Regions from separate parts of the Homo sapiens genome. Here region 2 is linked to region 1. Evidence: fine-mapped QTL for protein levels in blood plasma. Region 1 holds a variant in brackets. A gene starts in the other region. All regions are shown on their reverse strands. Region 1 overlaps TMEM176B (transmembrane protein 176B). Region 2 holds the start of ENPP6 (ectonucleotide pyrophosphatase/phosphodiesterase 6).

Evidence for each region. PIP is the posterior inclusion probability: the model's chance that the variant is causal. The UK Biobank Pharma Proteomics Project read protein levels with antibody pairs (Olink). The fine-mapping took linkage between variants from a reference panel, not from the people measured, so its PIPs are less certain.
Region 2: it holds the start of ENPP6, and the variant in region 1 is fine-mapped to the plasma level of the ENPP6 protein (UK Biobank, PIP above 0.99).

The regions. Positions count from the first base shown.
Region 1 is chr7:150,789,506-150,797,831 of GRCh38, reverse strand. It overlaps TMEM176B (transmembrane protein 176B), which reads left to right. Exons shown (of 7, transcript NM_001101312.2): 2 at 1,258-1,466; 3 at 3,761-3,871; 4 at 4,232-4,288; 5 at 4,517-4,744; 6 at 5,657-5,776; 7 at 6,209-6,531. The coding sequence starts at 1,263. The coding sequence ends at 6,301. Among named protein-coding and RNA genes, the nearest start is that of TMEM176B, 6.7 kb to the left of the region's middle. The variant C/T (reference allele first, on the strand shown) is at 4,682.
Region 2 is chr4:184,213,831-184,222,156 of GRCh38, reverse strand. ENPP6 (ectonucleotide pyrophosphatase/phosphodiesterase 6) reads left to right here and starts at 4,284. Exons shown (of 8, transcript NM_153343.4): 1 at 4,284-4,578. The coding sequence starts at 4,338.

The sequences.
Region 1 (8,326 bases):
AACCACTTAAATAAATTATGAGGAATTCATACTCTCAAAATATATGCAGTTACACAAATGAGTGAAGAAGCTTTTGTGAAAGTTGTCAGAATCATAATCGAGTCACTTGAGTTAAAAAAAAAATCTGAAAATGGAAGGCCCACAAGGCAGGGTTCTCATGCGTAAATAACCTGGGAACAAAAGTCATCACAAAGGACTCTGTAAAATGACAACCTTACACAAAAAAATACTTCTGTGAGGACATCCACCAGCAACTGCCTGTCTAACCCTGGACTTGTGTCACCCTTGTTATTGATCCTTGTAGCCAAGGATGATCACCTCAAAGAGATTATGTAAGTCTCCCCATTTTTCCTTTAAAAACCTTTGTCTTCCTTTACCTCCCTGAACGTGCACATGATTTACTATGGTAAGCATATTCTCATTGCAATGCCCTATTCCAGAATCAATCTCATTTTCTTTTGGAGAGCCTCTCTCTGTTATTTAGGTTGACACTTTTTATGGACTCATGTAGGATTATTCTAAAAACATATGATCGTGTGATCACAGCATCATGCAAATCAGTGTGTATAGTATGCTGCTATTTGTGGGAAAAGGGGGCAGAAATACTTTTTCACACTTTTGTATGCAAAAATGTCATGGTAGGATTTATAAGAGACTGATAATATTACTTTGCATCTGCAAGGCAAATAGGTGGTTGAGGGAAAAAGATGAGCGATAAGGTTTTAAAGGTATATATACCCTTTTGTATCTCTTAACTTTTTTATGTGTAAAATCACTATTGATTTCCAGTGCCATTGATATCTGCACTGGGAAGCCCCTTTGAATTTTGACAAAGACACTGTTTTTTGTTTGTTTGTTTGTTTGTTTTTGTTTTTTTTGAGATGGAGTCTCACTCTGTTGCCCAGGCTGGAGTGCAGTGGCAAGATCTGAGCTCACTGCAACCTCAGCCTCCCAGGTTGAAGTGATTCTCCTGCCTCAGCCTCCTGAGTAGCTGGGACTACAGGTGCACACCACCGTGCGGATTTTTGTATTTTTAGTAGAGAGGGAGTTTTGCCACATTGGCCAGGCTGGTCTTGAACTCCTGACCTCAGGTAATCCACCCACCTCAGCCTCCCAAAGCACTGGGATTACAGGCGTGAGCTATTGTGCCCAGCTGGGATCTTGACAAAGACACTATTTCTCTCCTTTCACCTGTGCTGTGTATTTTTCCCTCGCCTAGTTCCCAGACCTCACTGCTATATGTCTTCTCCCTGGCAGGCAGGATGACGCAAAACACGGTGATTGTGAATGGAGTTGCTATGGCCTCTAGGCCATCCCAGCCCACCCACGTCAACGTCCACATCCACCAGGAGTCAGCTTTGACACAACTGCTGAAAGCTGGAGGTTCTCTGAAGAAGTTTCTTTTTCACCCTGGGGACACTGTGCCTTCCACAGCCAGGATTGGTTATGAGCAGCTGGCTCTAGGGGTAAGACTGGGGTGGTGCGGGGTTGGGGGGCACGTTAACGAGGTGATGAGGTCAATTAAAATATAGAGCCAAATCTTCAAAATTAAAACGTTTTATTTGGGAGGAGAGAATTGCAATTTGGGGCATACACACAGACCAGGTGGTCTCCAGTATGTCTTTAGAACAAAGAGAAGGTTAGAGGCTTATAAAAAGGAGAAATGTTACATATTGCCCTTCATGAAAGATCATAGGTTTTGGGGAGCTGGTGAGCTCTGATGGGTGAGCGATGGCATGAGTAAAACTAATCCTAGAGTTGTAGCAAGGTCAGAAGCTGTAGATAAAGCTGGTTTCAGGTTGCAGCAGGCAGCTTCAGCAGCCTGATTTGTAGAGAATTACATTTTGGGAGCAACATTTTGTGCCCCGAGTGCTTTTTGCCCCTGGCCTCTCGACTCTGTTTTAGTTGAGTGTGACAAGAATGACCCCATTTGTAGGCTCAGCTTTCACAGTGGAAACTCTCCTTCTTCAATAGGATGCAAAAGAGGAAAGTGGGTTGAATTCCCATGAGAGGGACATGAGAAATCACTATTTATATCTCATTCTGTGTAGGAAAAAGTTGTAAGTGTCCCCACAGAAATTTGGATGGAAAGGAAGAATCGACCTCCTCTTTGGCACAGAGGAGTCGGTCCCAGCCAGAGGTAGGGCAACAGGAAGAACAGTCTAGAGGCTGTTAATTCGGTTTTATTGACCCCACATGGACTGAAAGCCTACAGGTGCAAGGCAATGTGTTCAGCACTTCAGGCCAAGCTACAGAGAGAATCCCTGGGCTATATCTAAAAGTACTCAGTGACCATCAGAAGGAACAGCAGCTACACTAATGACTGGAACTAAAGGTAGATCAGGTGAGGGAGAAGCACATCTGACATCCTTGAGGGCAGGAGAACCCTGAATGGAGAAGGAATAGGTATAGACAGAGGTGGAAGATGGACAAAAAAGAATTCCAGGTTAAAGAATGGCAGGAGCAAAGGCAAAGAGGCCAGAAGGCATAGGGCAAGTTCTATAATGGTTAAGAGTAAAGGGAATGGGCTTCATGAATGGGTGATTTGGGCCCATATTGCTGAGAGCCTTGAACGACCAGGTGAGGAGTCTGTCCTGAATCAGCTTTGACAGTGAGAACGCTGTCAATGGATTCTGAGCAGGAACCTGCCTCAGAGTCAGGAGGCATCCAGGTGAGAAGGATCGAGGATCTGCACTCACATAATCATAGCAGAAATGGTGAGGAGACAAAGGAGTCCCTGTCCTTCACAGACCTCCATGGCATGGGAGTGAAGGGGTTTGGGGCATAAGGAAAGAGAGGCATTCACAGCATGCAGAGAGGGTTGAAGTGTGGGTGACCAGGAGATCGGAGCCCTGAAAGTCAGGAGGAGCAGCCATTCGAGAGGTGTGTGTGTGTGTGTGTGTGTGTGTGTGTGTGTGTGTGTGGTAGTAGGGGATTTGGATGTGACAAATCCGAGATGCTGGTAGGATGTGGAGGTGGTGACAGTTGGGTTTTCCAGGAAGAAGAGGAGTTCTCTTCTGAGTCGGAGTTGGGTGTGTGAACGGCTTATTGGGGTATGACACCTATGAAATGAAAAGAGGGGGAGCAGGATTGAGCAGGAGGAACCATCAGGCTGCAATGCAGACTCTGCCAGGCCAGTGGGGGAGCTCCCAGGCAAAGGTTGCCCACTGCAGGAGTTCCACACTGGGTGGAGATGGCCCTTGAGCCACTGTCTTGCTTAATCATTGGCTGGGGGGCCCTCCTCAGTGTGTGTCTTCAGCTTGAAAAATTAGGGTGACCCTGAAGGAGCTGACAACTGCAGGCTGTCAGCAATCAAACAAGCCCTTTCTTGAAGGAGGTCTCAGCGGCACTTCTTTGTGTCTGCCACAGAGCCCTCAAGAGTGTGTGTTTGGATCTGAAGAGAAAGGATAGGCCAGAAGCTCAGGTCAGGCTGGGGGTTTGGATGGGACAATGGGACCTCTGAAGGAGAATGGGGGGGGAAAAGTGGGAATCTTCAGGTGGGATGAGAAAGTGTTGAAGTTGGGAAAAATTGATGAAGGATAAATAGCCAAGCCTATGAGAAGGGTGAGGGGAGACCCAGGCCAGTGCTGCTTCATGGATTTTAAGGGGACAGAATCTTCCAGAATCAGAGCTGCAGAGAGGTCAAGGCAGAGGAAAAGGAGAGGAGAGCCACCTAGGTAGGAGCCAGGCAGCTGGTCCCAGGGCAGCCGGGGCATGTGGACTCACGGGAAGGGGTCTGGTTTCTCATCCTGTCTTGCAGGTGACTCAGATATTGCTGGGGGTTGTGAGTTGTGTTCTTGGAGTGTGTCTCAGCTTGGGGCCCTGGACTGTGCTGAGTGCCTCAGGCTGTGCCTTCTGGGCGGGGTCTGTGGTGAGTAAGGAACAGGCTGTGAGCCTGGAGGGAGGCAAGTGGTGATGGGCAAGAAGGCGCTTATGGATCTTGGTTGGGGCTTTGGGGAAGCGACCAAAGTCTCTGGAGCCAAATGGCCTTTGGCCATGAGGAGGCTGCTCTGGGGTGTAGCTAAAACCCTGTCACTTCCATTTTTCTCTTGAAGACAGATGGGAGGGGTGGGGCAGGTATAGGTGGAATCCTGGTCTGTGTGTCAGAGTTCTTTGTCTGTCCCTGGGATCCTGCTTCACATTGGCTATTCTGGGAACTGCTGGTGGGAGGGTGATGATAGACCAATTCAGAAGAGTAAACTGGAGGCCTTTTTCTGGTGTCTCTTTTCAGGTGATCGCAGCAGGAGCTGGGGCCATTGTCCATGAGAAGCACCCGGGCAAACTTGCTGTGAGTCTTGGACACCCTCTCTCCACCTTGTTCACTGACCCCCTCCTGAATTCTGCTCCATTATCTGTCTTCTGCCCTTTGGTTGTCAATATCTTGGGGTCTTTCTTGGAGGGGAGGAGAGGGTTTCCTGGACAAGGGCTGGGGAAGAGGAGAGGGATTTGAGGCGGGGACCTCATGACTCTTCCACCGATTGAAGGAGCGTGTGTCATGACCCTCTTTCTCTTCCAGGGCTATATATCCAGCCTGCTCACCCTGGCAGGCTTTGCTACAGCTATGGCTGCTGTTGTCCTCTGCGTGAATAGCTTCATCTGGCAAACTGAACCCTTTTTATACATCGACACTGTGTGTGATCGCTCAGACCCTGTCTTCCCTACCACTGGGTACAGATGGATG[C/T]GGCGAAGTCAAGAGAACCAATGGCAGAAGGAGGAGTGTAGAGCTTACATGCAGATGCTGAGGGTGAGCAGGAAGAGTCCAGTCTTCGGGGACCCATCACAGCTCTTTTTTCCCAGGGAGCTGGGGGCCCTGGAGGACAGAGATGTAGGCTCTTTGAGCTTGGACTTCATGCTGGGTCTTTCATTCAGGAGGTTTTAATGTAAGCTACAGACATTTTTCAGACCTCATGACACGAAGATTCTCTGAATCAAGGAGGGTGAGGAACAAAGAGGAGACATTTCAGAGAGGAGATAGTGGGTCACCCTTCTGGCTTTTCTGGTGTGTTGGTATCACAGTTTTCCATTACTGAATTAAAAACCACACCAAAATGTAGTGGCTTAAAATGACAACTTATTATTTCTCACGGTGCTGTGAGTTGGCTGGATTCAGATGAGCCATTCTCACTCACGGGTTTTCTCATGCAGTTACAGTCAGATGGGGGTGAAGTTATCCAAGTGCTCGCCGAGGCTGGAGGTCTGAGATGATGTAGTTGCATGGTCCGGAGCTCAGCGGGGGCTGTCAGCAAGAGCCGGCAATGGCTTCTCCACTTGGCTTGGGCTTCTCATAGCACAGAAACTGGATTCCAATGGGGAGTACCCTAGTTGCAAGCATTTCAGGAGACAGAAAGTAGAAGCTGCCAGACCAGCTAAGGGCTTCCCTGTCACTGTATAGTGTCACTTTCACTGTGGCCAAAGCAGTTCTAGGCCCTTCCAGATTCTACGGGTTGAAGGAATAGTCTCCACTTCTTGACAGGGAGTGATAAGTTCACTCTGCAGACAAGCCAACGGGATGGAAGCTGTGGCTGGAAACACAGTCAGCTGTGGTGGGAGCAGCAAGCTGGATAGAGTCAGTGCCTGGGTGGGTGGAGAGGGTGGTGATGTGGGCAGCATTGGAGTAGCTGACACCTGACTATCTTTGTTCTTCCCTTATCTCCAGAAGTTGTTCACAGCAATCCGTGCCCTGTTCCTGGCTGTCTGTGTCTTGAAGGTCATTGTGTCCTTGGTTTCCTTGGGAGTAGGTCTTCGAAACTTGTGTGGCCAGAGCTCCCAGCCCCTGGTGAGTTGTCGGGGAGGGGCCTCTGGGCAGCGTGAGTCTGGGTGGTGAGTGTGTGGGACAGGTAGGAGTGCGGGGCCAGGGGCACCCGAACCTGAGGCTGGGCCTGGTGCCCCTCAGCTTCTTTCCATATGCAGCTCTCCCCTTTGCTGTCTGGGGAATGTGGCCATCACCATGGTCCTGGGCCAACTGTCGCCGCCCTGTGCCTCTCTGCGCCCTCCTCTGCTCTGATCTCCCCACTCTCCCCTCTGCCCTGTCCCAGGTGTTCGTCTGACTCCCCTTCCTCTGCCACCTTGTTTTTTTTTTGCCTGATCTGCTTTTCCTGTCACCTTTTCCTTTCCCTCCTCCTTTCCTCTTTCTGCTTTCTGAGTTCTATGATACTAACTCTGCCTGCATCCTTTTCCCCTAAGGATTTCTTTTTTCTTTTTTTTCCAGAATGAGGAAGGATCAGAGAAGAGGCTACTGGGGGAGAATTCAGTGCCCCCTTCGCCCTCTAGGGAGCAGACCTCCACTGCCATTGTCCTGTGAGCTGCCAAAGACCCCACGGGGTGCCCGCATGTCCCTGTCTAGGGCAGCCCAGGGCCCCCACTCCTGGCTCCTCACACTTGCCTCCCCTATGGCCGCTCTCCAGACCCTCCTCCTTTCTTCTCCCCACATCCGCACCTGCTGTTCCCACTCTGGGGTTCTCAAGTCCATGAACAGATATTGTTGCATTTTCCACAATGCTGATTAAACATAATAAACAATCCAGAAAAGCAGTTTTGCCCAGAAAGATATGGTTTCCCTTTGTTTATACACCTCGTGCGCCATGAAAGGCCTTTCTTTGTGTCGCTATGTATGAGGTTAAATGGGAGCTGATTTATCCCATTAAAACACTGTCCCAAGAAGATTAAATTTAATTATGTTCTGCTGTACATCCAGGTGGCAAAACCCCTTTTTATGATTTTCTTCAATTCAGTGTAAAGTGTAAGTCTAGTGGGCCTAGAATCTTCTTACCTGCTGAGATTGTCTAGGCTCCTACAACCTCGGCCTGTAGACTTAAGAGAACTGTGTGGAGCATGGAATGAGATTTTTGCCCCCTCCCTCCCTGTCTTCCTTCCTTTCTCTTTTTTCGTTTTGCAGTAATTAGTGTTGGTTCTGTCTCTTTTCCTGTCTCCACACACACATAAACACATCCTTAGTCTTCCTTCCTTTCATTGTAAATGATAGCAAACTGATTTTGACTTTTTCCATTTTCTTTATATATGAAGATATAACATAAATATATAGATGTAAGCATTTCTGAAGGGCAGGAAAGCTGGTAGGGGCTTTATGAAATCTCCATGAGGCCAGTTTCATGACTTAGCAGCCCCACAGGGCTGGTCTTCAGATCCAAGGCGATGGGCTGCAGGGCCTGCACCTTCCCTCTTGGCAGAGCGGTGCCACAGAGGTGCAGAGCTGCTGCGCTGGGCAAGACCTGCTCCTGCACAGGACTTGGAGTAGGGGCCTGTGCCGAGGGCGGTGCTGCTCTTCCTGGGGCCCTCACCAGCCTGTGCTTTACATAGAGGCTTGTAAAGAAGCCTGCGAGACAGGAGTGTGTTCAGAATATGGACAGGGTCAGCCGATTACAGCCTGAGGGGTAAATCCAGCCTGCCATTGAATTTTGTAAATAAAAATGTATCTAAACACAACCACACCCATTTCTTTACACATTGTACCTGTTTTTGTGCCACAAGGGCAGAGTTGAGGAGTCTTAACAGAGACTGAATGGCCCACAAAGCATAAAATATTTACTATTAGGCTTTTTACACACAAAGCTTGCTGGCCCCGATGTAGGAGCTTGCAGTGTAGAATGTTACGTTCTGTTTCGCTGTTGAGGGGTGTGGAGTGCTCAAGAATCCCTTCCAAGGGGAGCCAGCCTTGGATGAGCAGCGGGTGTGTAGCCAGCTGGTTTCCTCATTTCCCAGGGTCCAGAGCCCACAAATCATCAGGCAGAAAAACTTGGACTCAGAACCATTGCAGTCCCCATCCCTCCCTCAGTCCCCAGTAAAGAAGACATTAGAATCTCAGAGGAATTTAGAATCTCCTGAACCTCAACATTTATTTTACTGCCAGTGATGGAGTAATGGAAGCCCCCAATTCTTTGCTAAACAGGCAAATGTAAAGTAGCTAAGCCCAGAAGCCAAGCTGGGTTGAAATGGATAGTGTGGAAAGAGACCCATTAGCAGGGCAAGAACCTATGGGGCCTCACTTAGCCAGGCTTCAGGGAATGCTTAACCCATCAAAAAATGCGGATGGCTGCCTTTCCCCGTGTCTCATGTTTCCACACATCTTGTGAGCAGTGGCACTGACTGCCTTTTCAAAGATGTTCTCACCTCCTAATGGGCAGCCTTGGAAAATAGTGTCTTCTTCTGGACCAAAGGACAGGCATGATCACCTGTTATAAAAGAATCAGATTCCTTAAGCTCAGGGTTCCTTTTCTAGAACCCAGCCCACCGGCTGTGCTGGTGTCACCTGCAATGCCTCTTTGCATTGTCTGTGGGAACTGGGGTCCTAGAACCCACGCAAAAATGC
Region 2 (8,326 bases), not on the chromosome of region 1:
AGTCTTTTATATGTACTCACATATTGATCATTTATGAATTTTTTTCCCTTCCTGTGTATATTAATTTTCATCTTGTGTTATTTCCTCTCAAAGGACATTCTTTAGTATTTTTTTGTGGTACAAGCCTGTTGGTAACTAATTCTCTCATCTTTTGTTTATCTAAAAATGTCCTTATGTCGTCTTAAATTTTAAATAATATTTTTCCAGATACAAGGAGGGTTGACATGGACCAACAAAAGGCCAGCAGGGCTGCAAAAGCTGGGATGAATTAATTAATAGGACCAACAAGGGTGGATGTTGGCCGACATGGGCTGACTTGGGACCTCACTCTCAAATTGCATTGATTCTACAGCTAGAAAGTAGAAGCTAGAGCTTTGTCACTTTTCAGAGGTGAAAACTGAAGCCCAGAAAGGCAATTTCTTCAGAATCACACAATTGCATCATACCAGGATCTTGACTCTGGAATCACGTTTTTTTTGTGTTTTTTGTTTGTTTATTTTGTTTTGTTTTGTTTTGTTTTTCTGAGACTCTTTCCCTTCCATCTCACCTGTCTCTCCATAAAGGGGAGGCACCAGGGTGCTGACTAATCTGGACAGCACATTTCCTGAGAGCTCATGCATGTCCCTAGAGAGACTTGCAGCAGCTTTAGGACAAAGGTTCTTTCAACTTCTGGAGTAAATTTTTCATATTTTGCATTATCTAAGTGAAACCCCTGTGGACAATGACTTTACAGTATTGCCAACCCTTGAAAACAAGTTGCAATAAGCACTTATAAGCATTAGGTACTGATAACCACTCCCAAGTGAAGACATCCAGATCATAGACACATAGGTTTTGGATCACAAGACTTTGGGCACTTAATGTTAACCACCTGTATGACATATGGCTTTTAACTATTGCTTTTTAGCTTTCATTTCCAATCTTTTCTAGGTTAGACGGTTCAAGACCTGGAGACTGGCTTTGAGCAACCCTAGGATTACCTTGGCTTGAATTCCATCCAATACGTCTCTTTCTTCATATATTGGTATGTATATTAGAGATTCATATTGGCAATCATTTATTGATCCAAAGCTTTAGAGACATTGTCTAAACATGGTCATAACACAATATGATCATAAACATTATCATAAAACAATGATGACCCCACCCCAGATACATCACAACAATCTTTGTGGAGCCTTGGGAGCCTCTGGGGACCTGTGAACACGCTAATCTGAAGCAAGTTACTTCTGAGTTGACACCCACAACAGCTCAATGAGGCACTCAGGGAGCCATATTTTGAGTGTACCCTTGTTAGTAGTGGAGAAAAGTGGAAGTCCCTCTTATATTCATCTTTAACATTTGGAGTGCTTAACCTCTCCCAAAGTGAGCTCAGAAGCCATCCCAAAGTGAGCTCAGAGGCCATCCCAAAGTAAATCACTTGGACTTGCACTGTGACTCCAGCTTCGCAGTCCAGACAATCCCTGAGCCTCTCAGGAACTCACAGAGCACAGCTATCTGGGCCTCCTACCTCCATGGGCCCTCACCAGGGGAAGAAGTTCTCCTTCTAGCACATGTGATGTTCAGTGTCTAGGAGGCCCATCAACCCATCAGGCTGCATCTGCCTTTTCCCCTCCCCTCCCCTCCCTTCTCCTTCCCTTCCCTTCCCTCTCCTCCCTTTCCCTTCCCTTCTCTTCTCTTCTTCCCTTCCCTCCCTTTCCCTTCTTCCCATCCCTCCCTTTCCCTTCTTCCCATCCCTCCCTTTCCCTTCTTCCCATCTCTTCTCTTCCCTTCTTCCCTTTTCTTCCCTTCTTCCCTTTTTCCTTTCCCTTCCCTTCCCTCCCCTCCCTTCCATTCCCCTCACCTTCCCTTTCCTTCTCTTCTTCCCTTCTTCCCTTCCTTTCCCTTCCCTTCCCTTCCCTCCCCTCCCCTCCCTTCCCCGCCCCTTTCCTTCCCTTCTCTTCTTCGCTTTTCTTCCCTTCTTCTCTTCCCTTCCCTTCTTCCCTTCTATTCTTTTTTTTCCTTCCCTTCCCCTTCCCCTTTCCCTTTCCTTTCCCTTCTTTCCCTCCCTTCCCTTCCCCTCCCCTTCCCTTCCCTTCCCTTCCCTTCTTCGCTTTTCTTCCCTTCTTCTCTTCCTTTCCCTTCTTCCCTTCTATTCTTTTTTCCTCCTTCCCTTCCCCTTCCCCTTACCCTTTCCCTTCCCTTCCTTTCCCTCCCTTCCCTTCCCCTCCCCTTCCCTTCCCTTCCCTTCTTCGCTTTTCTTCCCTTTTTCTCTTCCTTTCCCTTCTTCCCTTCTATTCTTTTTTTCCTCCTTCCCTTCCCCTTTCCCTTTCCCTTCCCTTCCTTTCCCTCCCTTCCCTTTCCTCCCCTTCCTTCCCCTCCCCTTTCCTTCCCTTCCTCCCTTTTCTTCCTTTCTTCTCTTCCCTTCTGTTCTCTTTCCTTCTTCCCTTTTCTTCCCTTCCCTTTCTTTCTCTTTCTCCCTTCCTTCGTTTACTTTTCTTTCTTTCCTTTTTCTTTCTTTCTTCCTTCCTTTCCTCTTTCTTCTCTCTTTTCTTTTTCTCTGTTTATAGCAACAATACCACACAGCTCAAAGAAAAAAGAATAACATTGTTTTCAAAGTAACAACCTTTTAGGATAAACTCCCCTTTTCCTTATTTTTTAATAAGAAAAAAATTTAAATTTAATTATAAAAAGCATTACCTCTTATTGGAAAAAAGAATTCTGATCCTTGGCCAAGTCCCCTGAGAGGGGAGTGGTAATTTGGCCAATGTGTTTCTCTTTTGCAGCATAATTTAAAAAGTGACATGGTGATCCTGTGTTTGGGCTTGACTCAAATACAACAGAAAAAGAGAAGGAGAAAAGACACAAGCAGAGGGCAGAGGTGGAAGAGGGATTTTGGGGTTGACTGAGAGTGGCTGGTGTGGCTGGTGTCTATCTTCCTTCCCTGGAAAGTTTGCCCAGAGCCTGCAAGTTTCCTCAGGAGACAAGCAATGTTATAATGCGAATAACATCTAACATTTGTTCAACACTTGCTATGGACCATGCATGTTTTATGTCTTTTTTTTTTTGAGGCAGGGCCTCACTCTGTTGCCCAGCCTGGAGTGCAGTGATACAATCACAGCTTACTGCAGATATGACCACCTGTGCTCACACAATCCTCCCACCTCAGCCTCCTGTGTAGCTGGGACCAGGCACGTGCCGCCAGGCCCAGCTAATTTTTTAATTTTTTATAGAGATGGGGTCTTGCTGTGTTGCCCAGGCTGGTCTCAAGCTCCTGGCCTCAAGCAATCCTTCCACCTTGGCCTCCCAAAGTGGGCCACTGCACTCAGCCATGTTTTATAAGCCTTCACATGAATTGTGTTGTTTAATTTTATGTAGCATGACGGAGCCACTCTAGGGAACCCCTGGACTCTGGGTACTTTGTGCTAACTCTGTCTGCTCCCCAGCTCACATCTGCCTCCCTGTCACTAACCTCCTCCTATTTTCCACTCCGCCTAGTCTTCTCGGTCCCAAAGCCTGCATGGTAATTTCTAGCTCTGCTTTTCCATCTCAAGCTCTCAATCTCCAGCTCTCTATTTCATTTCCATCCTCCTGGGGCAATGCTGCTTCAGACCATTCTGCCAGTAATGATTTCCCATTGTCCAACTCTGGAAGCTTCTCATTGGCTCTAGGGCTCTTCTACGAACCACCTCCTCCTATGGGCACCAGCAGCTAAATCACATTTGAAAAATAAAATAATAACAAATAATAACACTGCATATAAAAACATAAGTGGCCAAGACATAGACAAATAACTTTTTTAAGTGCTGTGTCTACAGAGACACAGCTGGGAAGTTTACAAATGGGCCCACCGAAACGTATTGTTTCCTGTTTATGCACTGAGTCCAGAGGTTTGCGTTACTAAATTCTAAGTGAAAAAGAGTTTAAATGAGGCCATGATGTGGGATAACAGCAAATTAAAATCTTGCCCTTTTCCTTGGTTCCTCCCTTTGGTTAGCTCAACTGCAAAGTTAGTGTTGACTTTGTCATCTTCTAAAATTCCACCTCTGTGGGTGCTTGTATTTCTGGAACGTTCACCAAAAATAATAAGTTTGAACTCTCTCCCCTGGTGTTAATTCTGGGTTGTTTGGAACCCAGTTTATCTGAAGGAGTCGGTCTCTGGACTTTCTAGTAAAGGGTGAGCATAGATGTGTGGAAAAGGGGGTGCTGTTCCTTTAAATTCTGCAAGTGAACTTGACTCAGGAAGGCCAGCGGCTCAAGGTCCAGCCCCTGGAAGAGAGAATAGCTACAGATTCTCCATCCTCAGTCTTTGCAAGGCGACAGCTGTGCCAGCCGGGCTCTGGCAGGCTCCTGGCAGCATGGCAGTGAAGCTTGGGACCCTCCTGCTGGCCCTTGCCCTGGGCCTGGCCCAGCCAGCCTCTGCCCGCCGGAAGCTGCTGGTGTTTCTGCTGGATGGTTTTCGCTCAGACTACATCAGTGATGAGGCGCTGGAGTCATTGCCTGGTTTCAAAGAGATTGTGAGCAGGGGAGTAAAAGTGGATTACTTGACTCCAGACTTCCCTAGTCTCTCGTATCCCAATTATTATACCCTAATGACTGGTGAGTACCATGTCCTCTTCTGGGCAGGGAGGGGAGGGCTGGCATCCAGCAGGGAACAGTGAGCTCCTGGCATTGGAGTCTTATTTAAATGCTCTGGATTCTCTAGTCCTTTGGGACATCAAAGGTAGATAAAAAAAATCTGTGTTCTTGGCTGAGAAGACTTTTGTTTTCGTGGCGGTATTGTTTCCCAAAAGTTATCCCAAGGACCTGTTTTGGATTCTCAGTGCGGAGGACAGAGAACTATAGCAGTACATGATATTTGACGATATTAAAAGTGGTCGTTTATTTTAGAAAGAGAAATTCTAATGAGGCTCATATTTTCTAAGTTCAAGTCTGCAAAAGCAACAGGTGTCCGTGCATGTGTCCCAAACTCCTTCTGTCCCTTTTCTCTGTGGTCATGTCATCCTGGCACCCTGTGGGCTTGTTTCTCAGTGTGTTGGACTGTGAAAGTACCTGTGGGGTCCTCAGAGGGGAGTGGTGCTCCCGGATTACTTGGGGAAGGGGGGATGTTTAGGTCATATCCTTCCCTGTGACTTAGCAATGCCACCTTCCCCTTCTTTTGCCTTTTTGGCCAGGTAAAATGATACGGAGAAGAAAAAGCTTGTGTCGTTCAGGTTCCCCATTTGTGATTTGCAGCATCTACAAAAGACCAACCAGCAAAAACTCCACAAAACAAACAAAAACCTCGGCTAACCCAGACTGCCTGGGCTTGGGATAGCTGATTTTCCTAAGGACGGCCTTCATCTGAAATTGCCAGGACTCCAAACGCGACTGCATGAACCTGAGCCTCTATCCGTGCGATAATAGAATGTGCAGCCCTCTCTCTGCTCACAGAGTTGGATTCCCAGTTTCTGGTTTGTTTTTCAGCTATAACCTTTGTAAAGGCAGCGAGAGGCTCTCAGAAAGAATTTAGCAAACTATCCAGGGAGGCTGCTAAGAATGCACTGTTATTGCTGGTTATGCGGGACTCAGCTATGCACTCTGAGCACAGAGAGAGCTCTGCTAATTATGTTAACAGAAAGAAAATGAGATCTCTGATATCTCATGGACCTCCACAGAACACTAAAGCCAAAAGAGTCTAAAACAGACATTTATATCTCTGACTTTGTGCATAGATACTATATACACATGTACGGAAAAATGCCATAAACTGATGCCCCAAACTGAAGGGGAGAGATACTTCGGAGAAATAAAAATGAGGGCATGAGAGAGAGAAAAAAATCAGACTGCACACAAGCAAGGAAGTTATGTATTTGTTTTTTATTTCCCCCAGCAGACAAAAAAACAGTCTCTAAGATAAACAGAATTAACAAAATTCTCTGGCCCTCCCCTGGCATGTGTCTCCCCTTGCAGGGAAGCAGTTTGCAGGCTGCCGGCTCTCACATAGACGTGATTGTGTGGACAGCCGACTCCAGCTCTGTGCAGCGGCTTCACACACACAGCCCACCCCCACTCCAGCTGTCTTTCAGAGCCTTGCCAGGGGACCCAATTCATAAACTGCCACGCCACGTGCAGCTTCTGCAATCTTAGTGGAAAATGAACAAAATCCATCTTAGAAAGGACTCAAGTAAGTAAAAGGACCATTACAGACTCCACAGAGACACTAAGCCAATGACATGGCCTTTTGTTTGTCAGATCCACACTCCTGATATTGGCACAAGGAATAATTTGCACACAGCCTCCGTCATGCTGAGACACACCTTCTTTTCCGGCTGTGGGTGTTTTCCCTTGTGCTGTCCTGAGAGAAGGGCCCCTTCCTTTATGGGCAGCACAGGTCCCGTGAGTGTCTGACAAAGATCTCACCCTTGCTTTCAAACTGAGGCTGGCCCGAGGAAGCCACAGGTCTCCATATGTGTTAAGTCTCTGTATTTTCAGATGGCCAAATGTATTCACTGATGTGGAAGTCTGCTTGGTCTATATGTTTCATAGAAGCTACCCTGCACAAGGGAGGGATCTAGCAAGGCTCATGTTTCTGTACAAATGTCCTTGGGTATGATTTGTCTTGTACCTACTGGGCAGACTTGCAGACTTGAAGCAGAATTCGCAGGCTGGGAAATGCCAGGCCATGAACCTGGTATCACCTCCACTGTCTTGGAACTGACTCAGAGTTAAATTTAGACTATTTTCCCCAATACCCATACTTATTTTTCCACCTGATGCTGAAAACCTCCTCTTTTACTCATATAAAGAAGGATATAGCCATTGGGAATTGTAGCTAAACATATGGTTTGAGCATTTGAGCATTTTATGAACCAACAAAATTGCTATGCTAGATCTTTTTGGAAGCAAAAGATATGCTGTTTTAGGGTTCCTCAGCATTCACAAGAGAGGCTAAGCTCTCACTTCATTACCCGAATTATTGCTCAGAATACAGAAAGCCCTTGGTGTTCTTCCCTTTGCATAACGAGGAGTGATGAGTTGTTGGAAAGAATGCTGGCCCTTGAGCTGGGAGAACTTGCTTGGAGACTTCAGGCAAAATAAAATGAGATGAACTGCCGGGGCTGCATCAGGCCGGGATTTCAGGTGCTGCTGGATGCAGACATAGAACTAGGCAATGCATGGGGAATTTTATTTTATTTTATTTCACTTTAAATTCTGGGACACATGTGCAGAACGTGCAGTTTTGTTACAGAGGCATACATGTGCCATGGTGGTTTGCTGCACCTGTCAACTCGTCATCTAGATTTTAAGCCCTGCATGCGTTAGGTATTTGTCCTAATGCTCTCCCTCCCTGTGCCCCCGATCCTCCAACAGGGCCCAGTGTGTGATGTCCCCCTCCCTGTGTCCATGTGTTCTCATTGTTCAACTCCCACTTATGAGTGAGAACATGTGGTGTTTGATTTTCTGTCCCTGTGTTAGTTTGCTGAAAATGATGGCTTCTAGCTTCATCCATGTCTCTGCAAAGGACATGAACACATTCTTTTTTATGGCTGCATAGTATTCCATGGTGTATATGTGCCACATTTTCTTTATCCAGTCTATCATTGATGGGCATTTGGGTTGGTTCAAAGTCTTTGCTATTTGCACAGGTAATTTTAAAGTTAGGGCTGGACCCTCCTAGGAGGCCTTCGTGTAGAAAGTATGCAAATAGCGGAAACTCCCTTGAGACAGAGAATTTCACAGTGGATGGGGATGGGGAATCAACAGGCCTATTTGTGAGCAACCTTGAAACCATCTAGCCCAGTTGCTGCCATGAAGCCACCATGGCTGATTATTTATTTGCCTCAAAACATGTTTATATCAGGACAAAAGCAACCAAAATGCCAATCATGATCATGAAGATGAATCAAACAATTGAATGCCAGGAACATTGAATCTTTTTTCTTTTTTTTTTTATTATTATACTTTAAGTTTTAGGGTACATGTGCACATTGTGCAGGTTAGTTACATATGTATACATGTGCCATGCTGGTGCGCTGCACCCACTAACTCGTCATCTAGCATTAGGTATATCTCCCAATGCTATCCCTCCCGCCTCCCCCCACCCCACAACAGTCCCCAGAGTGTGATGTTCCCCTTCCTGTGTCCATGTGTTCTCATTGTTCAATTCCCACCTATGAGTGAGAATATGCGGTGTTTGGTTTTTTGTTCTTGCGATAGTTTACTGAGAATGATGATTTCCAATTTCATCCATGTCCCTACAAAGGACATGAACTCATCATTTTTTATGGCTGCATAGTATTCCATGGTGTATATGTGCCACATTTTCTTAATCCAGTCTATCATTGTTGGACATTTGGGTTGGTTC